4 linked regions of the Homo sapiens genome follow. The protein of the gene in region 4 purifies or fractionates together with the protein of the main gene of each other region. This does not show direct contact. Each region holds a gene or a part of one and is shown on either strand. Other genes may lie near its edges. The genes, in order: CST2, BPIFA2, COPS7B and RHOBTB1.

What was found.
Region 1: the proteins of RHOBTB1 (region 4) and CST2 purify together in Homo sapiens (affinity purification with mass spectrometry; 2 studies listed by BioGRID and IntAct, with this or other methods). This does not show direct contact.
Region 2: the proteins of RHOBTB1 (region 4) and BPIFA2 purify together in Homo sapiens (affinity purification with mass spectrometry; 2 studies listed by BioGRID and IntAct, with this or other methods). This does not show direct contact.
Region 3: the proteins of RHOBTB1 (region 4) and COPS7B purify together in Homo sapiens (affinity purification with mass spectrometry; 2 studies listed by BioGRID and IntAct, with this or other methods). This does not show direct contact.

The regions. Positions count from the first base shown.
Region 1 is NC_000020.11:23,822,644-23,831,685, forward strand, and holds CST2 (cystatin-SA precursor), read right to left. Parts: upstream 4,087-9,042; 5' UTR 4,018-4,086; coding exon 3,790-4,017; intron 2,681-3,789; coding exon 2,567-2,680; intron 1,461-2,566; coding exon 1,377-1,460; 3' UTR 1,126-1,376; downstream 1-1,125. UniProt on the Homo sapiens protein: Thiol protease inhibitor.
Region 2 is NC_000020.11:33,177,353-33,182,906, forward strand, and holds the end of BPIFA2 (BPI fold-containing family A member 2 precursor), read left to right. Parts: intron 1-794; coding exon 795-876; intron 877-2,251; coding exon 2,252-2,315; intron 2,316-3,167; coding exon 3,168-3,208; 3' UTR 3,209-3,245; intron 3,246-3,871; 3' UTR 3,872-4,060; downstream 4,061-5,554. UniProt on the Homo sapiens protein: Has strong antibacterial activity against P.aeruginosa.
Region 3 is NC_000002.12:231,788,433-231,797,232, reverse strand, and holds part of COPS7B (COP9 signalosome complex subunit 7b), read right to left. Parts: intron 8,679-8,800; 5' UTR 8,663-8,678; coding exon 8,501-8,662; intron 8,495-8,500; exon of another isoform or gene 6,060-8,494; intron 5,501-6,059; coding exon 5,425-5,500; intron 2,971-5,424; coding exon 2,882-2,970; intron 1,128-2,881; coding exon 925-1,127; intron 1-924. UniProt on the Homo sapiens protein: Component of the COP9 signalosome complex (CSN), a complex involved in various cellular and developmental processes.
Region 4 is NC_000010.11:60,906,186-60,913,185, forward strand, and holds part of RHOBTB1 (rho-related BTB domain-containing protein 1), read right to left. Parts: intron 5,368-7,000; 5' UTR 5,358-5,367; coding exon 5,166-5,357; intron 4,806-5,165; coding exon 4,702-4,805; intron 1-4,701.

The sequences.
Region 1 (9,042 bases), on a different chromosome or scaffold from region 4:
GATGACAGCAGTCTCTGCTTTCTCTGTGTGATGTTGCCCATCTTTTGTCTGGGTGGCATTTTTCCCAATCAGCTATACACACTCACACACACACACACACACACACAAATTTGTGTTCTTTGTTTCCATGTAGGGGCCTAAAGTCTCTTGTGGAAAGAACCACACATCGATCGCTATCTATTTAGTGTCTAGGGCATTTGATGAGAGCAGCTCAGTCCCTGTAAGGAAGGAGACCACTGGTACTCCTGCTGCCCTCTTCCCTCCACCTTGCCTAGTTCACAAGACAGGAGGAGAGAAAAAGCAAAAGGTTGGAAAAAAACAAAAGTAAGATAAATAGCCAGACAACCTTGGCACCACCACCTGGCTCTAGGAGTTAAAAAAAGTAATAATAGTAACATCAACCCCTGACCCAAACTACTTGTGGTATCTGTAAATTCCAGACACTGTATGAAAAAAGCACTGTAAAACTTTTTGTTCTGTTAGCTGATGCATGTAGCCCCAGTCAAGTTTCCCACGCTTGCTTGATGTATCATGACCCTTTCATGTGGACCCCTTAAAGCTGTAAGCCTATAAAAAGGCCAAGAATTTCTTTTTCCGGGAGCTTGGCTCTTAAGACGCAAGTCTGCTGATGCTCCCAGCCAAATAAAAACCTCTTCCTTCTTTAATCTGGTGTCTGAGGACATTTGTCTATGGCTCATCCTGCTACACTTGGAGTCTGCTCAACTCTGCAAGCACAGATGGAATCTACAGCCTAGCAAGCTCCACCGAGGCCTGAGCCCTGCCTGTGGACACAGCCAGCCCCCTCCTCCTGGTTGGACCAGTAGCTCAGACCAAAGCAGCAGCCCAGCTTCCCGGGCAGCAGTCTGGCCCACTCCTCTCCCTGACCCCCTCACCAGAGGCTGCTGCACCTGAAGGCCTGGGTTTCCAGCCCCTGGCTGCTGTCTCCCTGTTCTAAAGCTCAGGCCTCCAAAAGTGGCAGCAGCTCCCCTGACAGCCTTGCTGTGGCCATGTCAGGTCCCAGATACTCCTCTGATCTCCACACAAGCAGAACAAGGAGGCTTCATAAAGGAACTGCAGAAACCCTGCCTGTGTGCACATCCCCAGACAGCCAAGAACTCAGAGGGAGGTGATGCTACTGTTTAATTGCAGGAGGTGGGGGTGTGTGTACCATGTACCAGGGCTATGAGAAGCAAAAGGAAGGAGGGAGGGCAGAGTCCCCTGCTGAGCAACAAAGGCCTCCTGCAGCCTTCTCTGTCTTCTCCTGCTGCAGGTGCATGGGGAGACCTCCCACAGGGTGGGGGCCACCAGTCCAGGGGTGGGAGCACTACAAGGGGTGGGAGTAGGAGGTGGTCAGTGTGACTCCCTGGCACAGATCCCTAGGCTTCTTGACACCTGGAATTCACCAGGGACATTCTGTCCTCCCAGGGAACTTCGTAGATCTGGAAAGAGCACAACTGTTTCTGTGAAAGGGAAGAGAGAGGGCCAATCAGTGTGAGTTACAGTTAAAGGGGAAGTCACCCAGGCATGAGATGTCACAGCCTGAGTGAGGAGGATGGAGGTGAGACACTGGGCCCTCACCCACCCCTGCTGAGTCCCAGAGCACTGAACTAGAATGAATAGTGACTGTTCCATTGCCCCTCCCAAGGCTCCAAGTCACCAGGTGGCATTGGGCCCCCACCGCAGCCTGCAGTGTCCTGTCCCAGCACAGCCCTGTGAGGATCAGCCTGTGCAAGACCTTGGGAGCCCCAAGGGTGCAGGGCATGGGGAGGTGGCTCACTTCCCCCAGCTCCTTCCACCTCCAGCACTCAGGCCAGCACTAAGAGGGGCCAGAGGGAAGAACCCAGAGCAGGGCAACTCCGCCTCAAAGAGCTGGGGCATGGGGCAATGGTAACAAGGGGAGTGTGGCTCTCCCCTGAGTGGAGACCTCACAAGAACCAGCAGGTCCCTGGAGAGGCTGGTGTTGGGTGAGCCGGGCAGGTCCAGGGCTTCCCAGCTAACAGGCCTCTAGGTCCCACTAATCTGATCATTGTGTCTGTGGCTGCATGCAGGTACCTGAGGCTGGGATTAGACAGAGCCCCTTCTCCCTGCCCAGCACACAGCCCCACAGCTGCTTCTTCCTGTCCAACAGGCAACACCCCAAAGCAGGCAGAGTTGATCTCCCAGTAACCATTCCCAAGCTGAAGGCTTCCTAGCAAATCAAACACATCACCCTCCTCCCTCACCACCCCATCTGCACACACATAGGCAACTACGTAAACTCACTTGGACCCCTCAACCCCATGGATCTATGTACAAACCCCCAGAATCCCCACACACAGGCACACATGCTCCCATACAGCTCCCTGCACACACTGGCACATGTGTGTACACACATGCACCTTTCCACATGCACATCTACATGCACAACCCTCCACAAGTACATGAACATGTATACATCCATGCATACATGACTCCCCACATACCCACCTGCACACACACACCCTCCAAACATGTGTAGGGCAGAGACTGACACATACGCACCCCTCTGCAGTGCATGACTGGCCTGGGACCCGCATCAGGAACGTACCTTCTGCAGTTCTGGCTGTTCATGGAAGGCACAGGTGTCCAAGTTGGGCTGGGACTTGGTACATATGGTTCGGCCCACCTCTATGTCGAAGAAGTAATTCACCCCGCCCACGATCTACACACATGAGAAAACAGGATGCACGGACAGCGCCCCCATCAGTTCATGCACTCACAGGCACTTCACTGTGGCTGAGTCACTGGACTTGCTTGGGGGCTTCGTGAGCTGCCCACATGTCAACACAAGGCACACAAGCCCCCTCTTCCTGTCAGCTGGCAGGGTGCTGGGCCTCATGCCCCCTCTTAAATATTGTTTTCTCTGTGCTGGGTAAAAGGATTCATTGAATTCTGCCACCTGTGGCTCAGGGGCAAGGGAACACTGACTCTTTTTACCCATGGGTGTCAGTTTACCCATGTATAAAATAGGCGTCCGGGCCTGATGGTCTGCAATGCCCTGTGCTTCACTCCAAGTTATTGTCATGCTTGAAAGGGAGGTGGAGGCAAGCGGGGACCATGGCACCAGGGAGTGCACCTCCCGTGCAGGGTGAGGGTCCCAGTTGACAGCTGCAGGAGGAGAAATGGGGCTGGTCTGGATTCCTTTGAATTTCCAAGAGAAGGTGGAGGAGCTCTAAAGCCTGTGTCACTATTTGCTGCTCTGCCATGGGATGCAGGTAAAGCTGGGCCCAATAGCCCTTCTGAAGCTCTCTCTTGACCTGACACCTCCTCCTCTCTACTGGGTAACTGCTGTCCTCATCTGGCTGAGGTCTAACTCTGCATCAACTCATAGAGGCAGGGTCAGGCGTGCTCCACCCCAGCAGGGACTCAGCTGCCCTGGGCTGTAGGGGGTGGTCAGCCGGCCTGAGGGTGAAGGCCATTAGCCCTAAAGGGCTGTACCCACGGGTGTGACTTGGGGAGTGAAGTAGGGCTCTGCAGAACAGGAAGCGAAGTTCCTGTGTGGCCCCTGAGGAGAGGACTCAGGGAGGAGGGTGAGCCTCATGGCCTGGATCTCATCCTGAGCAGCATCAAGCCCATCCAGAGTCAGCATAGTCTCCATCCCCCGGGAGCATGCTTAGGCATGAAGGCCATAAGCAGAGAGTCAGGGAAAGCTGAATGAATCTGAGCATTAGATCATGAATGTATCAGTGTTGATGTGCTGCGAATGCTCTTATGGATCGGGCAACAAACAAGGCTGGGACTCAGGACCCCTCAGGTGGAGGCAGCACCCACCTGCTCCCTGGCTCGTAGCACCCGCAGCAGGCGTCTGTAGTACTCATCTTCAGTGGCCTTGTTATACTCGCTGATGACAAAGTGAAGGGCACGCTGTACCCGCTCATCATTGAGGTCTGCATCATAGATGCCACCCTCGATTATCCTGTCCTCCTCCTGGGGGCTCCAGGCCAGGGCCACAGCCTGGGTGGCCAGCAGGAGCAGCAGGGTGCACAGGGGCCAGGCCATGGTCTCCTCGGAGGCAGAGCACAGAGCTGGAGCTGCAGGAGAGGAGGTTGAGAGCCTGAGGCGGGGATCCCAGACCAGCAGGCAGCTGTGCATTTATCCTGCTTTGGCAGCTCAGCCCCACCCCCCTCCATGACCTGCCCCTGACTCCTCCTCCTCTTTCTGCTCATTCCCTCTTTCTCCATCTCTCTTTTCACTCCTCAGAAACCACAAGATCCCTCCCTGCCTAAGTTCTCCCTGCCCCTCCCAGGCCTCCTCCTCTATCTACCCCTCCTCCCCACTCCTGTCCTCACTGCAGCCTCCCCGAGCCATGCCTCTCTTCCCCAGTGCTCCCAAGCTTGAGTCACCAGGTCTCCACAGAGATGACACTTCTCCTTTGGCTATGAAAACAATGTGACCTCCTGTTTGCTCAGAAAAGTGAAAAATACAGGGCTTGGCCTCCGGGGTCTTCAGATATCAGAGGCATCCAGGAGCACTTGGTCACGGTCTCTGAATCTCTGGAACAGGGAGGTTATTTCAGAAGGTTCCAGAAGACCCTGTCCACACCCTATTATGGAGAATTTCTTTGCCAAATTCAAGGGAATTAACCTTTTTTGAAAAGGTCACTGGGTTCTCTTTTCATAACTCATTATTCAATAAAAAAACTTATCACCAGCTACTCCCCGTGCCAGGAGGTCTAGGGCTTGAATACTGAACCTGGATGATGAGCCATAGAGGTGACATTGCAGAGCTGCTGCCCACAGAGATGTGACATGAACCCACGAGCATATGAAAATGTGTAGTAGATGCATTTTAAAAGATGAGAAAAAATGGGTGAAAGTAATGTTTAAAATATTTATCTAACCTAATACAGCCACAATATTATTTCAGCTAATAGGAACTATTATTAATGAGATTTTTTTTTTGTTGGAGGGGTTTTGTAAATCTTTGAAATTCGCTGTGTATTTTTTACACTTAGCCTGGGAGTCATTTTGGACTGGCCCCATTTCAAGTGTCCCGTGGCACATGTGGCAGGTGGCTATGAAACTGTACAGTCCGTTCCTACACAGTGTGTGTAGGGGATGATAGGTTATGGTCAACAATTAGGATCAGGGAGTTATACTCACTCTGTTGGAAGTGAAATAGAACAGGGGCTAGAGAGAGACCACTGGACCCTGGTCAGGGTGGTCTCTATGAGACTGGAGAGGTTGAGAAGCCCCAGGCATTGGGGAACAGCCAGTGCAAAGGCCCTGAGGTGGGATTGGGACATGCCTGCTCCAGGAAGAGGAAGCTCCTGGAGGGGATGTGAGCAGGGAAGGGAATGACCTGGTGTCTCATGGTAACTGTGGGTGGGGCCCACAAGGTGCAGGGAGACACCTGGCAGGCAGTGGGGGTGTCAGAAGAGGGAGCAGAAGCCAAGGGATGAATGTGGGAGCCCACAGGCCTCACTTGCTTCTCTCCTAGGCAGCCATGCTTCCAGCTTCTTTCCTCTATGCACTGCTTGGAAGACCCACCTGATATTTTAAAAATTGCCTTGAAGGAGGTAGAATTTACATACAGTAAGATGCCTAATAGTATGTGCCCACCTGGAAGATTTTGTAAATACATACACCTGTATTACCACTTTGTCCAGACCTCTGACATCTGCCTTGCCCCAGACGGTGTCCTCCTGCCTCTGCAGCTCATCCTCGTGCCCACCCCACCCTGGCAGCCCCTGTCCAGTCCTGTAGACTCCTTTGTCACCTGCCCTTGAGATTCCCAGGAATGGAATCCTGCAGAGCAATCCCAGATGTGTCTTCGTCCTTTGCTCAGCGTGGCTTTCCAGTGGCCCCCAAGTTGCTTCATTGCCAGGATTGGGAGTTCTCCTTCTCCACAGACTGAGAGGACCTAATCACCACAGTGCTCTGTGGGGTGACAAAGTCTCCAGCTTGGGATGCTGTGGGCCTGTGCTGGAATGTGGCTCCAGGATTGGGGAGGATGGAAGGAGGCCCTGAACAGACAGCTGCTCCCTTTGTTCTCTCAACCCAACCCTCCATGCCTGAAGGTGACCCTGTGGCAAATGCCCTTGTGGTGAGGTGGAAGGCTTGGTGAGAAACACCAGGAAACCCTGGGCCTTTGCATGGCATCCAGAGGACTCTCCTGGGAGTAGTGGAGGTGAGGGTCAGACAGAGTCAACCCAGAGCTGCTGGGATCCTGGGTCTCAGCCGTGGCTGGGGCTGCATCAGCAGGACCCGGCAGCAGGAACAATATTACTCATTGGTGTTCATGTTCAGTATTAGGACAGGGGACCTTGTTATCCAAGGCCCAGTGACCATTGCACACCACTGTCAATCCAGCACACCTAGAAAAACCATGCATCCCAGCAGATACAGCAGGTGTCCCAGGGATGGTGTTTACCGCTGGGTGATGGAGGGAAGGTCTTCAAACAGGGCTGCGCAGGATGGCTCCTAGTTAGACAGGGAATGGGGATAAATTCCCAGAGAAGGGAGAGAGAGGGAAGTCCCTTACCAGGTGTTTGTGAGCAGAGTGGTCATCTCCAAAGGGTAGGACTTAGTTCTCCTCTGTGGCTCCCACCTTCCTGGGATAGCTGGGAGTCCAGACTCAGGAAGAGCTGCTGTGCAGAGGATAAGCTGAAGGTCAAGAAATCCTCTCATTTTTTTTTATCACTGGAAAGGAGATGCAGGTTGAAGGGGTGGCCTGCCCCTCCACACCTGTGGGTATTTCTAGTCAGGTGGGATGAGAGGCTGAGAAAAGAAATAAGACACAGAGACAAAGTATAGAGAAACAACAGTGGGCCCAGGGGACCGGCGCTCAGCATACCAAGGACCTGCACCGGCACCGGTCTGAGTTCCCTCAGTTTTTATTGATTATTATCTTCATTATTTCACCAAAAAGGAACATAGCAGGAGGGCAGGGTGATAATAAGGAGAAGGTCAGCAACAAACATGTGAGCAATAGAATCTACGTCATAATTAAGTTCAAGGGAAGGTACTATGACTGGACATGCACGTAAGCCAGATTTATGTTTCTCTCCACCCAAACATCTCAGTGGAGTAAAGAATTACAAGGCAGTATTGCTGCAAACATGTCTCGCCTCCCACCATAGGGCAGTTTTTCTCTCATCTCAGAATTGAACAAATGTACAATCGGGTTTCATACTGAGACATACAGTTCCCAGGGGCAGGCAGGAGATAGTGGCCTTCCTCTATCTCAACTGCAAGAGGCTTTCCTCTTTTACTAATCCACCTCAGCACAGACCCTTTACAGGTGTCGGGCTGGGGGACAGTCAGGTCTTTCTCATCCCACCAGGCCATATTTCAGACTATCACATGGGGAGAAACCGTGGACAATACCCTGCTTTCAAGGGCAGAGGTCCCTGCAGCCTTCCGCAGTGCATTGTGCCCCTGGTTTATTGAGACTAGAGAATGACGACGGCCTTTATCAAGTATACTGCTTGTAAACATTTTGTTAACAAGGCACATCCTGCACAGCCCTAGATCCCTTAAACCTTGATTTTATACAACACATGTTTTTGTGAGCTCCTGGTTGGGTCAAAGTGCCTGGGGCAAAGCTACAAAATTAAGAACATCTCAGCAAAGCAATTATTTAAAGTACAGGTCTTTTACAAAATGGAGTCTCTTATGTCTTCCATTTCTACATAGACACAGTAACAGTCTGATCTCTCTTTCTTTTCCCAAACAGGTAACCCAAATAGTGAGAATTTGCTGGTGGGTGGAGTGTGAGGGAGGGAGGCCAAAGTGCTGATCTGTGCCGTGTATGTGATGACACCACCAGTGGTCATCTTGTGTCAGGATGCTGGCATGCACTGCAGGGAGGGTCAGCTGTCCTGATGCAGCAACCTCTCTAATCTCAGTAGGAAAGATACCAATGTATGTTGCTTTTCTGAGGAGGTACAAGTGCGATGTCCAGTATGGAGTGATAGGAAGTGGCAGGTGGGGGTAGCTGGCCAGCTGCTCCAGATGTTTGATGACCTTAGGCAAATGTTGTGTCTGTTGTGCGTGTGGAGAAAGAGGCTACTTTTTAAAGCGTATTGTCTGGGAGTTCAGACCAGCAGAGATGAGCAGACTTTACCAGTGATGTAGCAACATGTTTGAAAATGATGGAATAGCCAGGTGAGGTGGTGCACCTGTAATCCTAGCTAATTAGGAGAGTGAGTCAGGAAGATTCCTTGAATCCAGGAGTTCAATTCCAGCCTGTGAAACACAGTGAAACCCCCATCTCAAAAAAAATGACAGAACATTTTGTTCCCTGATTTCTATAGTCCACAGTTTTAAGGACACACTAGGAGGGGGCCAGATAGCAACCATGGACTGAGGAACAAGCCTGGGGCCTCCAGCACCCATGTAACCTGGAGGAGTCTAGCTGCCCAGGAGGGGGCAAGTTTTCCTTCTGCTAGGTGATGAAAGAGAAAGCTCTGTTCCCCTAGGCTGCATGGGTGACTACTGATCCTATTATCTGAATTAGCAGGATGAGAAGTTAGGTGAGTGGTAGAAGTTCTCTGCAATAAATGATGAATAATAAGTGAACACTAAGCAATACTACAATAAACAAATGACCAAACACAGAAAGCATCACCTACAGGTGCAGGTGGTGAGGACAACCTGGCCAAGAGTTGAGATTCTGCACATCTGGGTTTTGAGCAACTAACACTTTGATCTATGGTAGGAGCTGAGACTGAACAGCCACAGGATTTGGTGGCTTCTCAAATGGGAAGCCCAGAAGCCCCTTTTACGGAGTGCCTGGAATTCTCTGGGGTCAAGCTTGTCTCTTTCACACTCTATCCCTCCTTCTTTTCTCCCTCTCCTCAAACATGGTGGACACGTGGATGCTTCTAAACTATGAGCCAATGTTGGTAACACATTTGTCTCTGCTAGAACATGTGGATGCTTCTAAACTATGGGCCCATGTTGGTAACACATTTGGCTCTGCTAGGACATGTGGAAGCTTCTAAACTATGGGCCCATGTTGGTAACACATTTGGCTCTGCTAGGACATGTGGAAGGTCCTAAACTATGGGCCAATATTGGT
Region 2 (5,554 bases), on a different chromosome or scaffold from region 4:
TCAAAAAAAAAAAAAAAAGTGTATTGAGCATCTGCTGTGTGCCAGGCAGGCACCATTCTGGGCTCTGGAGAACTGATTGGTGATGACAGACAAGGTCCCTGTTCTTGCGGAGCTTACCCAAGGGAAAGCTAAGCTGCCGTGGATCTGTGTCCACATCTGTGAAATGACACCACTCTACAGCTCCAAATCCTCTCAGCGCTTTTCTTTGCACTTTGGATCCAATCCAACCCAAATTCAGTCCATCGGTAAAGAACGCTCCAGGGAAATGAGTCCTGCAGAAAGCATTACCCTTAACTGGGCACTGTGATAGCAAAGCTCTCTCTTAGGTAAGCAGTCAGGGAGGGGTGCCCTGAGGAGGTGGCAATTATACTAAGAGTTGAAGGTGGGAGGAGCCAACTTTGGCAAGATTTGTTTAGGTACCACATCAGGGTATGTTTGGACCCTTAATGTTTAGGTACCAGGTTAGGGGATGTTTGTACTTTACTTATTCGGTATCCTCAGGGCCCAGCTAGGTTCCTGGTGCATAGCTGGTGCTCTGTAAATACGGGTTGAATGAGTGAACGAATAAGGTCTCTGCGCTGAGAATCTCATGAGGCACTGGGGTGAGCCGCTGGTCAGATGTGGGAGTCTAAGTGATGATCCATGTGGATGGGAGGCTCTGTCTGTTAAAGTGTCTCCATGTCCCTGGGGTTTATCTGACTCCACAGTATTTCCCGCACCGCCCCCAACTTTTTGGCAGTTCTCCCATCTCTTGCCCACTTGACCAGACTTTAATAGTTCCCTGTGTTTTCCAGACACAGCCAAATCATCAACAAGTTCGTGAATAGCGTGATCAACACGCTGAAAAGCACTGTATCCTCCCTGCTGCAGAAGGAGGTGAGTCTCCCACTCCTTGGAGCCCAGATCCAGGCCTGGTGGGGGCAGGTGGGGGAATTTGCAGGCCTGGCTGTATCCTCTGAGCACTTTTCCTTCGGAGGTGAAAGCTTCTCCTTAGGAGGTCAGCTGGAGCTTCCTCCTCTACTAATCAGCCTGGTGGGTAGCAGGGTAGAGCAGAGGCCTGACATTAGCTGAAATTGCCAGGTCCCAAACTTGAGCCTCTCACCATATCCACGCACTACCAATATGCTTTTGTAGCTAACATCTTCAACACAATTTTACTTAAATATGTTTCTTTAGAAGCATTTATTTTTAAAAATAAAACTTTATATCCCTATCATAAATAGAAAATTAATATCACATATCATACAATCAATGGACTTATAAAATAGTTTTAATTTTTTTTCCATCTGTGCATCATCCAAAACCATAGGTACCATGTGCAGGATTACTAGGCCCAAAGTTGCAGAGATTCTAAATCAGTCATTCTGGAAGCAGACCCAGGAATGTGGGTTTATAAAAGAAAAATCCTCCGGATGGCTCTGTGACCCACTGAACCGGAGTTTAGTTATATTCCAAAAGCGATCCTCCACCAGCTTCAGCCTCAGCTGGGTGCTTGATAGGAATGCGGAATCTCAGGCCACACCCCAGACCTGCTGAATTGCAATCTGCGGGGAACTGTGTACACACAGGAGCAAGAGATACTCCGCTCTACAACCTCAGGGCAAATGCCTCAGGGCACCATTTGACCCTTTAAAATTCCAGGGTTCCAAAGTTCAACATGGGAATGTTAACAATCTAGAATGTAGATTTTTGAGGTCCTAGAATTCTAGTGTTCTAAGGTGTTAGGATTCTAACACCCTAGGGTTTCCAGATTTAAGACTGCTGGGATCCCATTGTTCTAAAATCCTAAGGTTCAGGCCAGGCGCGGTGGCTTATGCCTGTAATCCCAGCTCTTTTGAAGGTCAAGGTGGGCAGATCACTTGAGGTCAGGAGTTCAAGACCAGCCTGGCTAACATGGTGAAACCCTGTCTCTACTGAAAATACAAAAATTAGCCAGGCATGGTGGCATGTGCCTGTGAACCCAGTTTCTTGAGAGGCTGAGGCAGGAGAATCACTTGAATCTGGGAGGCGGAGGTTGCAGTGAGCAGAAATCGTACCACTGTACTCCAGCCTGGGCAAGACAGTGAGATTCTGTCTCAGAAAAAAAAAAAAAAATACAATAAAACAAAATAAAATCCTAAGGTTCAAAGATTCTAAGATCCCTAGAAATGAGCTCATCTGTGGGTGGCAAGCAATTTGTTCTCAGCTGAGAAGAATGATCTGTTCTTCCTCCTACTCCTGACCCTCCTCTTCCTCCTTTCTCCGCTGTCAGATATGTCCACTGATCCGCATCTTCATCCACTCCCTGGATGTGAATGTCATTCAGCAGGTCGTCGGTAAGTCAATGGGGAAGTGGGGACCTTCTGAGGCAGGCATGGAGCTCTGTGCCCACCCCATAAGCAGTTCTGGTCAGGGGACCCTGGAGAAGCAGAAGGACCCACTGTCCTAAGCAAATTGGGAGCCATGGCTTCCCCTCCACAGGCACCCGGGGGCTCCCTTTGGCTTTTGGGTCTACAGGCATGGCTGGGGTTGCTGGGGAGAAATGGAGTAAGTAAAGCTGTCAAGACCCTGGAGGTGACCCTTCTATGAAAATAGCCACAAGTCAGCCAGGCGCAGTGGCTCACACTTGTAATCCTAGCACTTTGCGAGGCTGAGGTGGGCAGACCACTTGAGTTCAGGAGTTTGAGACCAGCCTGGGTGACACGGTGAAACCCCATCTCTACTAAAAAATACAAAATTAGCCAGGCGTGGTGGCATCCACCTGGAGTCCCAGCTACTCGGGAGGCTGAGGCGGGAGGATTGCTTGAGCCTAGGAGGCGGACATCGCAGGTAGCCGACATCATGCCACTGCACTCCGGCCTGGGTGACAGAGTGAGACCGCAATCTCAAAAAAAGAAAAAAAAAAAGAAGAAGAAGAAAGGAAATAGCCACAAGTCCAGTCCCTTAGGCAGTCACTTTGTGCTCTGTACACACTATCTCACTGGATCCTTGCAACAACCCTGTGGGGAAGGTACTGTCATTGTACCCACTTTACAGATGAACAAACTGAAGCTCAGAGAGGTGGAGCAACATCCCTGGGGTCCCACAACTGTCAGGTTACCGGCTGGAGAGCGGCATCTTTTGGAGTCTGGTCTCTATTCAATTCCAGTGGCAGAGACTAAGGCCTGCTATTGATTTTGTTTCTTCAGATAATCCTCAGCACAAAACCCAGCTGCAAACCCTCATCTGAAGAGGACGAATGAGGAGGACCACTGTGGTGCATGCTGGTGAGGAGCCAGTCTCTGTGCCCCAATGCACAGGGGCCTATGGTGAAGTAAAAGTCAAGCGTGGCTTCCCTTATTTTTGTGTTAGAAGACTGTGCCTTCATCTCAGTCATAGATTGAGCCCTGGCCCCCATCCCAGGCTAGGCCCTGATTCTGGTCACACTCTGAACACTGAGCCTTAATCACTGAACTCTGATTCTGGCCCCAGACTGAGCCTGGATCCTAGTCACAGACTGAGCTTTGATGCCAGTTATTGACTGAGCCTTAGTCTTGGTCACAGAATGAGCCCCAACCTTGGTCTCAAATGGATATCCATGATTCTGATCACATATTGGGCCCTGAACCTGGCTCCAGTAGTGGCCTCAATCAATCTTTTCACATCTACCATTGTTCTGAAGGAGGGTGAGGGGAATGAAGATGAGTCAGTGCCAGGTGCTAATGAAAGACCCCAAACCACAGGTGCCAGTTTCTTCTTCCCAGGACTTAAACCGCATGGGGTATTGTGGGAAAGAGCTGGGACACTGGAGCCAGGTCAACTTGGGTCCCATCAAGTGCCCAGTGGATGACTGACAGCTGGGTGTAAGGGCAGCCTAGCAGCAAATGTCCTAACCCCCTTGGTCTCATTCCAGATTGGTTCCCAGTGGCTTGCCCCACCCCCTTATAGCATCTCCCTCCAGGAAGCTGCTGCCACCACCTAACCAGCGTGAAAGCCTGAGTCCCACCAGAAGGACCTTCCCAGATACCCCTTCTCCTCACAGTCAGAACAGCAGCCTCTACACATGTTGTCCTGCCCCTGGCAATAAAGGCCCATTTCTGCACCCTTCTGTGTGGCTTGTTGCATTCCCTCCATTTGGGATTTGTTGGTGGGAACTGGGGAGGGAGGTTGGGGGCTGCAACTAGGGTGGGAGAGACCTGGATCCAGAGCTAGAAGGCTCAGTGGGAATATCCAGCCACATCTCCTGGTTCTATAAAGGGGGCCACTGAGACAGAGAGGGCAACAAACTAGCCCAAGTCACACAGCCAATCTGTGGCAATAGCAGACCCCTGATCTATCCATTCATGCATTCAACAGGTATGTAGTGAACACCTACTCTGTGCCAGACAGGCAATGGGAACTGGAAAGTCACATTCTGGGGACAGCCCCACCCAGCACTTTCCTCCATTCCTCTCCAGGGGCCCTGAGGATTCTTGGAGAATCAGGGGACACCTAGCCTGACTGGAGTCAGGAGTATGAGACAGAGTGATGCAGGGTCAGAGGCCTGTGGCCCCATCTCCACCTGCCCTGTTAGCCCTGCTGCCCTCTAGGGGTCCCACTGGAGCAGAGATGTCTTTTCCAGGTGGTGCTGAGAGTTCTCAGTCTGTAGCACCCTCACCCACCCCTCCCATCACCTGAGAGCCTGTGCACCCACTTGCCAGGCTGCCTGGAGGCCCAGCCTCCCTAGTGAGGTCGAGAACCCTGGGATGCTCACCTATCCTATGGAGACCAGCTTCTCCCTCCACCCAAGGCCCCTCCATCCACACCCCAGAATGCAGCTCGGCCCATGCTGCACCAGGCTGTGGCAGAGACAGCATCACGCTGCTCACGGCAACACGTCATGGGGGACTGCCTTTGTGCGGCCCACGGGCTCCATTGATTCCTTACCACACCCATGCACCAGGAGAGCCATTATCACACCCATTTGACAGAGGAGGACTCTGAGGCTGATGGAGGCAAAGTGACTCCTCCGGGTCACACAGTGAGCAAGAGGCAGAGCCAGGCTTTGAATCCACAGCTGTAGGACCCCTGAATTTACTACAAATGAAGACATTGAGGCACAAAGAGGGCCCAGGCTCAGAGAGGTGACATCCTGGCTTCCAGGCACTTTGGCCGCTACTCTTGCCAGCCTCCAGCAGGCTCCACTTCCCTGGCCCAAGACAGATGAGGTACTCTGGGTGCTGTTCTTCTCCCCCAAGTGTAGACCCTCGGCTCTTCCTTTGCTCTAGAAGGGGCAGGACACTGTCCGCTCCCAACAATCGCGTTGGCCTCAGCAGAGATGCAACACGGGCCACACACCAATGCACACCATCGCCTCAGGATCCCAGCAGCCTCTCCTTTCCAATAGGGAACCCAGCCCCAGGAACCTTTGCCGATTTTGCCAAGCAGCCATCTCATTACTCTGCACAACTCTAGGAGGCAGGAATGTCTCTTGTCCCCACGAGAAACTCAAACTCAGAGAAGCCAAGGCCACACTGAAGCCTGCACCCAGCTGCTAATTCACTCGAGGGCCTCCTCTCTGATGAAGGCAGCCTCACTGAGTCAGGTGACCTACAGG
Region 3 (8,800 bases), on a different chromosome or scaffold from region 4:
AAGTGGCACTGCTCCTCTCTGGATATGCTTCTCTCGGGGATGAGCAGAGATTCTCTCTCCCTCCCGAACCTGTGTACAAAGCTCACCGGGTCTGCTTCATGGCTTCCAACATGCCACGTGCCTGCCTGGGAACACACTCTCCTCACCTCCAGGTATACTCTAACCCTGGCCTTCCTTCAAAACTGAGCTAAAACTTCTCCAATCAGTCCATCTGGCTTTATAAGCCCCAAATAATTTAAATCACTCCACAGTGAATCCTCGTAGAATGTGAGACAGCTCTTACAAATATCAAATTCCATTAAAACAGAGAAAACACAAATGTCCCAATGCTTTTTATATACCAGAGTATAGTTATCAGATATTCTTTGTATGAGTCTGTATTCCAAGTTAAAATGACCCACTCCTTGTCTTCCATGTCCCTCACGGTGTTTTACAAACATTAGCCCAATATGTTACTGATTTTGAACGTAAGTTCTTTTATCCGAAGAATCTTATAAACATGTTAACTTCAACAGGGATAGAAAAAATAATAAAAACAAAGAAAGAATCTTACAAACACTAGCCTTCCTGAGTTTGGTCAAACTTTGAGCGTGAGTTTGGAAAGGGCAGGACTAGCCTCACACAGCTAGGACACATAGGCTCCACCTGCTAACCCTGGGCATTTTATAGCCCACTTTTAAATAGCTCCCAGTTGCATTTAAGGAAAGAACTATTTTACAACCAAGGCACCAGGAGGCCTGAAATGACTCCTGTTATCACACAGCTGTGATCACAAATGTAGCTCCACTCTCCGGCTCACTAAGCCCCAGCTCCCAGGTAGCTACAGGCCCACCCCAAACCCTCAGCTGACACCAGGGAATCACATTTTTGCAAGGAGAGGCACAAAAGACATGCTAGATATCCCCCTCCTCCTTTTAGCCTCACCATTCATGCAGGGTCTTGACAATATTATTGATATCCTTCTTTCGGATGTCACGGCCAATGCAGAAATCCACTTCCAGCAGCTGGTTTCGCTGGTCCAGCTTGCCCTGGATGATGTCAGTGTAGACAGCCTCAATGATAAGGTCTTCTAGTTCCCGGAGATTCCGCATCTCCAGGTCTTTCAGCAACACGGAGTAGGGGATACACTGTAGATAAGGCCATGTGATCATTATAAAAACCATCTGGCAAGCATTAGCGAAAATGCAGGTATTACTCCCATAGCCAACAGCTGCCTCTAGGCTCGGGAAACGCAGGCTAGTGGTAATTATTAATAGCTAGGGCAACAAGAGGTGGATAAATGAACCATGAGACCTAGAAGACCCAACATCTAAGAAAGCAACCTCCTGGTTCTCTGCCTCCTTGGCTTCACCCAGCCTTCAGATTTCACATGCTGCAGCATACTTGTAGAGATCCTAAAAACTTGTACCAGTGGAGAGAAAGGGAACTACTGAGTATATGCCACTCTGCCACCTTCTGGAAGCTTTCAGACTTTGCTAGATCACCATAAATCTCCAACAGATCCCAGTCACTGGAAAGAGCTGGCTACTTGCCCAGCAGAGTGCAAAAACAAACAAAAAAAACTTGCAGGCCAGCATATCTACCTATAGGTGGCCAATGGGTACTGCCAGCTCAGATGTCACCCTGAAGTTTGTATCTGTTTTCTCAGACACAACCAATATGAATTCCCCAACAATAGTTCTTTATTGGGCTGTACCAACATTCTTTACTACACTTGAGAAGTCCACAATCAGTACAAGAAAAAAGGTCAGGTCCTCATTTCACAACAAAATAGGCCTCCCACCTGAAATGCTAGGCTGAGAATCAGAAATGTGCCATTAGATCAGATAAAATGATTTCAGCAACTGAAATTGCAATCCAAGAACAAAAAAACCAAGTGCAGTGGCTCACACCTGTAATCCCAACACTTTGGGAGGCTGAGATGGGAGGATCGCTTGAAGTCAGGGGGTTGAGACCAGCCTAGGCAACATGGTGAGACCCTTGTCTCAATTTAAAAAATTTTTTAAGTTAAAAAGGCCGGGCACGGTGGCTCATGCCTGTAATCCCAGCACTTTGGGAGGCCGAGGCAGGTGGATCACCTGAGGTCAGGAGTTCAAGACCAGCCTGGCCAACGTGATGAAACCCTGACTGTACTAAAAAATATAAAAATTATGGGCATGGTGGCAGGTGCCTGTAATTCCAGCTACTCGGGAGGCTGAGGCAGGAGAATCACTTGAACCCAGGAGGTGGAGGTTGCAGTAAGCCCAGGTTGCGCCACTGCACTCCAGCGCAGGCAACAGAGCAACACTCTGTCTCAAAAAAAAAAAAAAAAAATTAGCCGGGCGGGGTGGTCCACGCCTGTAATCCCAGCTACTTGGGGCTGAGTAGGGGAATCGCTCGAATCTGGGAGGCAGAGGTTGCAGTGAGCTGAGATCACACCACTGCATTCCAGCCTGGGCGACAGAGTGAGACTCCGTCTCAACAACAACAACAACAAAAAATCTAGCAAGTCCGACATAGCAAGTTTTTCCTCCAGCATGGGCATAGTTCACTGTGTACTGAGCAACAGATTAAGCTGTTAACTTGCCTTGAGATGCCTTGCTATTTGAAAAATGTATATCTTTAACAGCAGTCTCCCCTTAATATGGCAAAATGATCATGCCACATGCGGCACCACAGCATGCCAGGACTAAGACCTGCTGAGTCAATCACTTCTGGGCATACTTTTCCTGTATGGAATGGGGAGTACTTTTCTACACCATTTTATCTTTTCCTCTGTCAAGCAAATTTTATGCATTTATGATGTGACTCTCCTATGTGCAGCTGGGACTTCCTTCATTGATGTCAATGAGACAGCTGACTTGGGGTAAGGAGGAAGACAAGAGAAGGCTCAGTACCGTACCTTCATTCTTGATGCCAAGCTCACGATGGTAAGATGCTTCAGCTTGTTCTGCTGAGCTGTGCTCAGTTCTGGCAGGCTCTCCTTGTTGGCTGCTCAGTCCCACCCACCACAAAAATCAAGACACAAAATAAAATTAGGATTTCTTTTATGGAATAAGCTCACCAACTCCCCAAACCAAATCTACTACTGAATCACTATCATGACTTTGCACTTATTCATTTGACAAATATTCCTGTCTTCTTTGGAAGACTATGTACTTCCAAAGAAGAAAAGACTCAGTTTCTACAAACACAGAGTTTAGTCTCCTAAAAAGCAAACAAGCAAAATGATGTGGCAATTATCTTAATGGAGTACTATTTGTGCCCCTTGTGACATTCAATTAAATTAAACATATCTTCATCGAGCATCTGTTGTGTGCAATGCTCTGTACTGAGAAGAATCAAGGATGAACAAGATGGGCTTTGCCAGGGCTGCTGCATGGCACAACTCCAGGGCCACCAACCACCTGGAGGTGTGCAACTTCATGGCCCTGGACTTGTCCTCGGTCTTACAATCAGATGTTTCCATAGCTACAAATCCAAGGCAGAACTACCAGAAGAAAGGTACAAGCTACTAGAAGAGAGGAGGAGAGGGATGGGGAGGAGACAGGGGTAAGAGAAAGAGATGAAAGGGGAGGGGAGAGGGAAAGAGAACAGTATCATTTGGAAAGTACAGAAGATAAAAAGAAAGAATTCATGGAAGAGATGGAGTTTGAGTTGAGCCTTGAGAAAGAGGCAAAATTTCAATAATAACCATAAATGATAATAACAGCAAGGGCAGCAGCTGCAGCAGCTAACATAAATAGCAAGCTTTACATCTTGTGGATTGCATAGATCCACACGTACATACACACATCCAGTTCATCTTCACAACAACCCGCAAGACTCCAAGTGTCCTCAATTCCTTAACGATAATTCTGGATTCCAAAAAACTATATCCAAACTGATTTTTTCTTAAGCATGGTGCTGAAATTCACCTGGTGGGAATTTCTAACCTGTACGGAGACAGGCTTTTTATCCCACTTGTTTCCACATTCCTCTGGGAGTGTTACATAAAAAGGCATGCGCATCATATTACCTTTTTAAAGTCCCAAAAATTCTAAATTCTGAAACATCTAACTTCGAGGAGTGTAGGTAAGGAATAATGGGCTTGTATTGTTACTCCCACTTTACAGACGAGGAAATTGAGCTGCATAAGGTTACTTCATTTGTCAACGAACACACAACTAGTAGAAGTGGAGCCAGACTGGCTACAGGCAGTCTGCTAACAGAGTCTGTGCAATGCTGCCTCTTTAGTAAGCAAGGACAGAAAAACAGAACACATTCCCTGGAACAAAGGGAAGGTCAGAAAAAAATGTGGTGTACCAGGAACTGGCAAACTGTCCAGTCTGACAGCAGCACAAAGTAGAAGTGACCAGGGAGAAAGAAGAAGTCAGGGATATCGCAGCGAAGGCCCTGAGTATCAGGCTACAGTCATACCATTAAAAAAGGGTAGGAAAGCCAGAAAAAAATGCTTTGGGTAGAAGGTAAGTTAGTGTTTGGACATACAAATACCTCAACCTAATACTTCAGATTATAATTTAAAATGACCCAAATGCCCTGCAACAGAAAATGAGCTAAGTAGATTATGAAATATTAAAAATATTAAAAAGACTTAAAATATGGATAAATGTTTGTAAGTGGGAAGAAACAAGCAAGACATAAAACTGTATACATAGTTGTACCTATGTAATACAAAACACAAACATAAGGGGCACAAAAAAGTCCAGCATCCAAATGTCTGAGCAACATATGAGTGACATTTATTTATTTATTTGTTTGTTTGACAGAGTCTCGCTCTGTTGCCCAGGCTGGAGTACAGCGGTGCAATCTCAGCTTACTACAGTCTCTATCTCCCAGGTTCAAGCAATTCTGCTGCCTCAGCCTCCGGAGTGGCTGGGATTACAGGCGCCCACCACCACGCCGAGCTAATTTTTGTATTTTTAGTAGAGACAGGGTTTCACCATGTTGGCCAGGCTGGTGTAAAACTCCTCACCTCAAGTGATCTGCCTGCCTCGGCCTCCCAAAGTGCTGGGATTACAGGCATGAGCCACCGCGCCCAGCCTATGAGTGACTTTTAAAAAGTCTATTTTCCAAATTTTCTTCAATATGCTGGTATTATTTTGATAATATTTAAAATGTTGAAACATTCTACAGGTGGGTATTCTGCACTTCACAGCACTCCAAGAGCCCTACAAACACCAGTCCTCAAGAATCTCATCTGGAAAACAAACAAGGGCTACATTTGTGGATGAGCACACACAGGCCCCATTTGACCCACTAGAATATAAAAGGTGAGAAGGAACATTCCCTTTGTGAGGTCACCCACCGGGCACAGCAAAATGGGAGGCAGCCAGGTCAAGAAGTCTCCCCACTACCCCATGCTTTATATCTCAAACCTTGATGGTCTTCCAAACTGAGCAACATAATTAACACAAGTCTTTTGAAGGATCTTCACCAACTCACCTATGTAATCTGGGTATGTCCCATAGGCAAACAGGTTCAACAACTGCAAATAAGCAGCATTAGCTCCTTCCGCAAGCTGAAGAGGAAAAAAAAAGTTCACCACAGACCAAACTGTCTACCAATCACTGTAGTGTTCAAACAGAGGACGGGTGAGCATGTGTCAAAGATGCCATGGCTGTTTATTCTGTACTATTTGATTACTTGGCCCCTGGGGTCTCTACCAACTCTGGTTCTTCGGGAAAAAATAAACAAGATTATTAAAGCCCCAAATTTAATTTCTCTCTCTCAGGAATGTTTTACTTTCTATACAGCATGCCCAACGAACTGCTTTTCTCTCACACACACATACAAAGCATTAAGCATTGGAAGGAGTTCAAATCTTCTCAAGATTCTGTTTGCATTAAAACAAAGACTGGAGCAGCCCTATCTACATACCAGCTTGGTAGGTATGGCATGAGCCACCACCAACCCAAAGTGAACAAAGCTCAGGGTTGGTTCCAAGTTTCAGGACTACACGTGGACTATGAACCCTGGGAGAGACCAGCACATCATAAGGTATGACAGAAAGCCAGGCTGGGACAGAAAACCAGGGTATCAGTCTGCCCCAAATCAAAATGTTCATTAAAATTACTTACTCTTCACTGATGCTGATGGCAAAAAGCCATGTGTAGAAGAAAAACGAAAGAGCCACTGTTCTGCCTGGAACTTCTCTGCTGTCAATTACGTTAACTGGTTGTTGTTGTTGTTGTTGTTGTTTAAATCACAAACGTGGGCCGGGCGCGGTGGCTCACGCCTGTAATCCCAGCACTTTGGGAGGCCGAGGCGGGTGGATCATGAGGTCAGGAGATCGAGACCATCCTGGCTAACAAGGTGAAACCCCGTCTCTACTAAAAATACAAAAAATTAGCCGGGCGCGGTGGCGGGCGCCTGTAGTCCCAGCTACTTGGGAGGCTGAGGCAGGAGAATGGCGTGAACCCGGGAAGCGGAGCTTGCAGTGAGCCGAGATTGCGCCACTGCAGTCCGCAGTCCGGCCTGGGCGACAGAGCGAGACTCCGTCTCAAAAAAAAAAAAAAAAAATCACAAACGTGCTCCTGTTACCCTTCCAACTTACCAAGCCCAGTAAACTCTAAACAGGAATAGCAAGTGGTAGTCTACAGACAGCAATAGCGATACTACTCAATTTTAGCCATTAAAAAAAATAAAGCTTCCAAGAAATGCATCTATAATTTCAGATCACTGAAAGGCAACCAGCTTATTCTCAGCTCACATATGGAAAAACGCAATGTATGGGGAGATAAAGGTGGTCTGCTAAGCACCCTATGGAGAACTCCAGCACCATAATACCTCAGGCTACTTTCTCAGGTTACCACAAACCTCCTGAAGTCCCTGAATCAGAAGGGGAAGAAACCTGGTAAAGACCATCCAATCTAGCCCCCCTTTTCAGAAACATAATTAACAAAACTAGCCGGAAAAGAGCATTTTCTCCAGAGCAGATACTCCAACACTTCTCCCACTGGCCTAAATCAATAAGGTCTTTCTGACTTTACTTTCCATCCATCTCCTCTTAGCCAATCTTCCACAGTTACAAAACAACTACTTGGCATATTCATGCAGGCTGTTCATGAACCTGAAGGAACATATTACCCCTTGGTCATCTCTTGTGTTGAAAAATGAACTCAGTTTTCTGAAATTTTCTTCATAAAACTCATTTTCCACTTCTGGTAAATTAAATTTTTATTGAAAGCCTACTGTGTGTCAGGCTACGTATTCAGCTCTAAAGAAACAATGGTGAGCACTACAGACCTCCTCACAGAGTTTATAGTTCGGCAAGCAAGGCTGACATTAAATAAAAATTTACAGTGAAAAAGTAAAAGTGGCTCTTCTCATCTCTGAACATCACAGGTAGAGGAGACATAATTGGGCACCTGAAATGGCTGGACTGTAGGGAACTGCTCCAGTTTCCCCATCAAGAGGAATAGGCAGACACACAGCACCGAATCCAATAAACTGAAGGCCGGCAACTCCTTTGGTTACAACTAACTGATTCACTGAAACTCCTGTTAAAACTGACTGTGGGTGTGGAGCCAACAGCAAAGGTGTTGTGGTGGTCATGAAGGTGATAAACTGCCCAACAAAAGCAAACCACCTCCTATATGCAAATCGCCACCACCAAGAACTCCGGGGCCACTCTCAACAGCATCCAGCACATGCTCCACAAGAAGTACCATCACCCAGATCTATGCATGGCAGCTTCCACAGAGCCAGCACCAGTCTGCATAGCCAGAAGCCTGTGAGGATGAAGAGGAAGGGGACCTGCCCCACCAATCCGCCAAAAGCTCCTGAGCACCAGCCTCCACCCCACAAAACAATAAAGATGCTTACAGACTTTTCTCAATAAGTGAATAAATATAAATAAATAAAAATGTTCAAATTGGAAAGTAGAGGTTGAGAAGTATAGATTGCTTTACATCTCTTTGTTCCTTCTGTTCAATGGATCTTCTCATTTTTGAGGCACAATGACCAAAACTGGATATCCAAGGTTTTAATAACAAGCAAGCAAACAAGTAAAATGAACTATGTCCTAGCTTTTCATGTCATATCTAACACATCTAACACATTTAGCACAACACTGCCCTTTTCCTCAAGAACAATACACTCCTATTCATGTCCATCTTATGTTCAATAGCAGTATGTTTCTGCTGTGTGTCCCTGACCAATCTTCCTTATCGATATTGCACTGGAGGTTTCTGGTCCTTAAGAATGCATGAATCTACTCCTATTAAACAGCCCATGCTTACAGCACTACTTTTCTAATTTATCAGGATCAATTTGACTTTTTTACTATCTTTTAGGTTATTATTAGCAACAATCTAATTTTACCCAAGGTAAGATAAAAATACTGGATAAAAGGAGCCAAGGATATTCTCTCAATCTCTCCCTCTGCCCCACCAATTCCCATCTGTCTCACAATAGGGTACCTCACAGGTTCACAATACTTCAGCACTGAAATTCTTTGGAAACCTGGAGAATTACAGAGTCTTAGAATAAAGAGAAATTGTTTGCAAACCGTTCTTACCTCCTGCACGTTGGCCAGCTCCAGAAGTTCTCCAAAGACATACACTCCGGGAGCCTCTAAGACCTGGCTTATGAGAGCAGTGAGGGCTGAGCCACTGGTACCTTTGGCTAGTAAAATAAACTGCTCCAGGAGATTACTTGAGGGTTTCTGTTCCCCTGCCATTCTCTGGCCTTGAAATCTGTCCAAAAGAAAATTGTGTCAGTCATTCTTCCTTCTCCTTTGCAAAGTCTGTGCCTATTCAGTGCTGAATCAAACACCAGAATACTTTACTTTTATAGTGTTGATAAAGAAAAAACAGGA
Region 4 (7,000 bases):
ATGTTTTTGTTAAATGATTTGGGGAAAACATGCCAAGATTCCCATTCACTCTCAGAAGGTTTGCTTGGATGTATCATTTTTACTGAAAGCAAAAGGACTCATGCTCCGCTACTTAATGGATGCATATAAAGAATTAAGTTATTTGTTGTGGAATAAAGAATTTAAGAGGAACACTGGAATATCAGAGCTCGTAATAGATGGTGAGTGCTGGTCTTCAGGGTCTACACAGTACTGTGTAAGATTCAGAATGTACCAGGAGGAAATTTCAAGTAATTTTGTCATCCATCATCATCACAAACTACAACAGCATGGTGGATGGGGAAGATATGGGCTTTGGAGTCAGACAGATTCAAGAGGAAAGTCCAGCTGCACTCTGTCCTGGCTGTCTGACCTTGGCCCTTTTTTGTGCCTGTTTCTCCAACCGTGAAATGAGCCTATTTTGCAGGCTCACCACAAGAGTGAAGCAGGACAGGACACATGCAGCACGTAGCACAGGCCTGGTGCCTGGGGCACCCTGATTAAACTGTAGTTGTTATCACTGTCAGCAACATAGGCTTTATTCAGTGTCTGAAGGTTCTCTGACCTGCAGACAGATCAATGAAGGAAATTTTATAGGGGAAAAAAAAAACAATAAAATCTGCAATTATTTACCTATGTGTGACTAGACAAAAGGGACTGATATGGTTTGGCTGTGTCCCCACCCAAATCTCGAATCGTAGCTCCCGTGATTCTCACATGTCGTGATGTCGTGGGAGGGACCCAGTGGGAGGTAACTGAATCTTGAGAGCAGGTCTTTCTCATGCTATTCTCATGACAGTGAATAAGTATCATGAGATCTGGTGGTTTCATAAAGGGCAGTTCCCCTGCACATGCTCTCTCTCTTGCCTGCCACCATGTAAGATGTGACTTTGCTCCTCCTTTGCCTTCTGCCATGATTGTCAGGCCTCCCCAGCCACACGGAACTGTGAGTCCATTAAACCTCTTTTTCTTTATAAATTACCTAGTCTCAAATATGTCTTTATTACCAGTGTAAGAACAGACTAATACAGGGACTGAAGGGCCAGATTCCTGATAAAGGCAGAGCCCATCCTGTTTGCCTATATTTTCAGTGCTAAGTCCTTAAATGTGGACATTTCATTTTTATAAGAGCTCCAGGAGACAACTCTTGAGTTGAGCGACATCCCTTTAAGAAGAGGCGCTTTCCTTGCCAAAAAAGAGCAGCTGATCAAAGTCATGGTTACTATGTATGGTTTTGTTCCTGACATTTTAAAAGATCCAGAAAAGAGCTTCAAAAGTTCATCCAAAAGTGGATATAAAGTAGGTGGTGGAAAAAAGGCCATAAGAGAGCTGGAGTTATTCACCCCAGAGAAGAGAGGGTTGACAGATTTCAAAGTGCAGAGCGTTACAACACTCATGCTACTCTGTTTCCTTCATCTCCATGGAATAGAAGGGCTCCTATCAATACTTTTTTTTGGATAGATGGATGATTTCCCTTCCTGAAGACATGGGGTCAACCAGATGACCTTTTGAAATCTCTTCTAGTTCCAATCTTTGCACAAATCCAAAAGAGCAAATAGAAATCCAGCTCACCAATGTAGGGTCCCAGTAGGTTGAGGTAGCTTGGCACAGTGGAAAGAGTGAGAGCCAGGAGTCAGGCAGAGTGGCTTTGAATCTGCCTCTGAGACTCACTTGTTGGGCAAATTTATGGTAGTAAAAGAACTCAACCTTTTACTCAATGGTAGCACCAAGATCATCTCTGCCTCCTACAGTTCCTGAAAGGATTAACTAATGTTGGCAAAGCACCTAATGTGTTGACTGGCACACAGTAGGCTTTTGAAAAATTGGAGCTTTTATTCTAATTGGCAAAAGAATGGGTAGAATAGTTCCATTTAAATCATAAGAGAGCAATAACACTGTGGTTATACCACATCAGGAACATTGCAAATTCAAGTTGGCCAACTGCCTACCACTGACAACTCCTCATCCCACAGAATCCTCTCTGCAAACTAGAGCTTGTCCATGCCAAAGAATGTTTGAGGGGCAACTTATTAACTACCTTTTGCTATGAAGCAGAGGAAACCGAAGGCAAGGTCTAAAACATGTTGGTTTAAATCTGGCTTCTCTCACTGTCACCACAAGAATCAAATTAATTATTTTAAAAAGGTTTCGAATACATTTTCAAGAATAGGGAATGTATTTCACATGCCTCAAAGTTTATGTCTTGAGTACATCCCACTGAACTGTAATTCTCACTAAGTACAGTAAAAATGTCAGTCACAAAACAGGTTTGCAAACCAAACAAGTTTTGCAAAAACAAAAAAGGTTTGTAAAAGCTATAATTATGATTCCTCTCCTTCACAAATGATATAAAGGTAAAACTTGAAGTCATTAAGAAATTAAACAGCTCTCTCAGAGCCGGGAAATGTACTGGTTAGGGACCTATAGTGAATTAAAAAACTCCTACTTCTCTCAGTTTTTTCCATAAAAATGTAACTTTTTGGCATTACGTCAATGTGATATTACATATTTAGCATTTACAGAAAGATGCTGGAGTGCAAGAGAGAGGAGCTCTGGTTTTTATTCTTTAACTAGAGGTGGGGTCTGTGTCAGGACGCCTGGAGGCTGTGAGGAATTGGAAAAGGCAGAGGAAATACAAGGTACAAACATGCACACAAAGCAAGGCCCTAAGGAGAACGTGGCCAGAAACACAGGAGTGTTCCTGAAGCCCCTCAATGTTGCTCAGAGAATCAAACTTGGCTTGGGGGAGCACTTCCTGTTTCTATCAAAGGGATAATGGGTTACAGTTGACAGAACCAAATGTTACAGACAAGGGAGCAGAACAATGCACTTTGAACCGATGGAGTCACAGGAAAGAGCAGCTTATTTTTGTTGGGAGGGAACACACACGCAGGTATGGCATGTTGTATTGTAAAATGACTCCAGCTATGTCAGAGAGCTGGACGGGGCCCAGTGTGGATCTATGAAGGCCATCGTGCCATTAAATAAATGCTATGCAGGAATCTCACAAGATAATGAAGCAGCCCTTTTATTACCACCACACCAGCTTTACGCTGAGGGGTCATGTTAAATTTCGTTGTTTGAAATGAATACATTTCATTGTTGTTGTTTTCTCTTTTTTTTTCTGTTATTTTTTCACAGGTATTGACAAATGCATAAATTTCTAGTGGCAACAAACCACTGAGCTGTTGAAATAGTCTCTAGATTCTAAACCCAAATATTTCCATTAACTCATCATCAGGCTCATCATTTTCATGACACTGTTTTAGAAGTGGGGATATAAAAAAGTCCTTTGAAATCTACTGTATTTATCCTTACACTGCCTAAAGTCATCAAATCAAGCTTCCTCAAAACCATAGGTGTTACAAACCTGACTGCCCAGCAGTTACAAGCAGGTTCATTTATAATTGTTATTTTTACATGTAGAACAATTGGACAAAAGAAAAAAGCAAAATGGCACCTAAGATAACAATCAACAACATTATAGAAAGAAAAAAAATCCAGGAAATTCAAGGAAAAGAAAACTATCTATGATGTAGGATACTAAGTTCAAAAGTCCTTGTTACCAAGGGGACATTAAAATCGTGTTTTGCTTCCATAACTCTCTGAGTCCCCTTGAAAGAAAGTGGTCTAAGTCACAGATTCTTTCAGTGTGTGAAATAATTCCTGGGAATAGGGCAAACTCTTTCAGCAGTTTATTCATTATTTTAGGCCACTTAGATAAATGACAATAAAAGTCCGTTCAAAGAGCTACTGGCTTGTAGAAATAGAAGAATCTTCAGAAATGCTTATCTCAATACCAAGGAGTAATTCACGTGCTTGGAGTACCTAACTAATAAAATCCTGTAAGGTGATATGATGTTTGATGTTAAGAAGAGACAACAAGGCCATGATATCTACGTTCTACACTGAAAATGAAATGTGTTCATTTATAATTAAGTGGTAAAAAAAAAGTCTCCATTAATACAGAATTTAACAGCTATAACCCATTCATTGAGAGAGACGTTAAGTTATGGTGGCAAGGAGAGGTTGCTAAATATTTTAAGGCACTTTGACCATGTTCCTACCCATATTAATGTCCTTCTAGAGGAGTTTTCCCATTACTAGATTTTTTTCTCCTTTTTAAAAAAATAAACGTTAGTGTTTCTGTTCATTTTGGAAATATGTCTTGCGAAGGACTTTGGAGATATTTTTCTTTCTTTTTAAAAATGACCTTCTAATAAAAATAATAGACTTTTCAGATAACACAAAATCCAAAGCAAATAACATTAGACTCTGCCAATATGGTCATGAAAAGACCAAACAGTCTTTCTGAAGTAGGGTGACCAAGTGCCAAAATAACTTAAAACATTCTAACAGAAGGCAAGTGAAGTGTTACTCAGAGAACCAGCAATCAAAGCAGCCCGCAGTTGGAGGGTGTTACAGAATCCTAATCTAGCAAACCTTCCAGCTTGACCACTGGTTGTTTTCAACACAGTACTTCCTCATTGGCAGGGCACGCTTCTTTTCTTGACATCAGGAAACAATACCATTTTTTTTTCTTTTCCTTTTCTTAGACACAGTGCAGAACCCAGCACATTTCAAGGCCATATGATGTGGTTTTTGTTGATTTGTAAACCCGCTGCTGGTTTTGAAAAGGAAATTGCATTCAAGCTCAACCACGCTGTACTAGTCTTGGTTTACCTGCCATATGCAAAGCGTCTGTCTTTGTGATGATCACCAAAAGTATCCCAAAGCCTGAGAGAAACACTCACTTCATCAACAACATCCCGAGAACGCTCCAAGACCTGCAGGAGAGAGAGAGAGCATCTGTGCTCGGTGTCAGTCAGAAGTTCCCCAGGAGAAGCGTGTTCAAGTCAGCACCCTCAGTGCCATCAATTCACTTGCATTAAGTTTCCTTATTCTATCTGACGGGATTTAAGCTAAGTCTTAATTCCCTTCCTGGAATCATCTGTCTCAACCCTCATTCAGGATACCAGAGCCACAGTCTCCGGTTTGCATTTTGCTTTTGTTTTCTCTCGTGGCACTAAAAAGGTTAGTTTTGTTTTGAATGTGTAATTTATCCACGCTCCTCCTTTAGAAAAAATCAGACTGGCAACCAGCAATGATGTGCCCTAGGGATGCTGAAGACACTCTGTGCATCTTACCTCCTGGCACACGCGGTACTGGTCAATCGCCCACACTGTTGGCACGTGGGTGGCCAGCAGCTGATACTGCGTGAGTGTGGTGTTGCACGCCCTGGCACAGATCAAGCGCGTCTTCCCCACGGCATTGTCACCCACGACCACACATTTGATAGTTTCAACGTTGGGTCTTTCGTAGTCCATGTCAGCGTCCATTTATGAAACTCTGTAAGAAGAGAGTGAACACCACAGTAAGGACACCAAGGCTTTCCAGAGCAATCAAAGACGTAAGAGGTTCAGGGAGTTTTGCCTTCGTCCAGCCACTTCCTTGGAGGTGCACAAGCACAGGAAAGAATGTTTGGAAGTTCGTACTAAGCCTAATTGACACTCAAGTTTTCTTTTTATATCTCACACAAGTACAAAAACATGGGACTGTTATTTTGACCCCAAACAGTTTATTCCCGTTAACTGTTATTTTCTCCTTGGTTTTCTCTAAACACAACCTGCCTACTGGAGCTCCATTCAGCCACTGTCGGGACAGCTGGCACACATTTATAGCCTACTGGATACTCACGTTGGCCTGCTAGCAAGTCCGGTCACCTGTAGGGCTGAACTTCAACATTGGGCAATAGGTAGCCTTGGCAATGCTAGCATCTACTTCATCACAAGATCGCTCATTAGCCAATATCTGTTGTTGAAAAGCAGTTTTCTATAGGTTCAAAACTGTTATGGGGACTTAGAGAATAATCAAAAGTGCAGGCTGAAAGACTACCTGATGTCAAAGAAGAGTAAACTGCTAAGTCTAAATTTAATCAAATTAACTTATATTTATTTGTATTAATCAAATTCATAATTCATAAATATATATGTGTGTGTGTATATATATGTGTATATATATACACACACACATATATATATGTATATGGAATCTCACGCTGTCACCCAGGCTACAGCACAAGCACAGTGGTGCAATCTCCACTCACTGCAACTTCTGCCTCCTGGGTTCAAGCGATTCGCCTGGCTCAGCCTCCTGAGTAGCTGGCATTACAGGTGCCCACCACCATGCCCGGCTAATTTTTATATTTTTAGTAGAGATGGGGTTTTACCATGTTGGCCAGCTGGTCTCAAACTCCTTATCTCAAGTGATCTCCCCACCTTGGCCTCCCAAAGTGCTGGAATTATAGGCATGAGCCACCATGCCTAGCCTTAAAAAAGATATTCTTGAGGGCCCACAATAAAGCAAGATTCAAAAAAATTATCTTCTGTGTTTTCATCAAGAAATCTGGAACATATGGCAAAGAATAATTTTACCAGGAGAGTTACTTTGGAATCTTCCTGAGACCATCCAAGAAGGTTTAAACAGGGCTGCTGATGAGAGGCCAAGAGGAAGAAAAAAAGCACCTGCCAGCTTGGTCTCCCCAGGGACAGGACCCTCCACAAACAGGGGTGCAGGCTGCTTACCAGTAGCAGCTGGACAGGAGGCCAGCCATGTATGATTTTAAGATTTTAATTAATTGTAATTGCCTTTTTGAGGGAGTCTATTGTTAAACTAATAAGAACAGATGCTACACTTGATCTTAGCCAAAAGGCTGACAAGCAATGGAAGTCCATTGTTAAACTGAGAAAAGTGGGTGGGCGGTCATTTTTAAGGAGTCAGTAATGATTTTAATGGCTATGGTAAAGAAACTGTTCAGAGTAAAGCCTAATACATAATTGGGACTCAAGTGTTTGTTTAATTCATCTGATTGAGAAAAATGATAACTTGGATAATGAGATTAAGGGCATTGACAAGGATATATAGAAAGAATATTAAGAAGAATTCTTTTTCACAGTTAGGACTATTGGAACATGGACTGTCT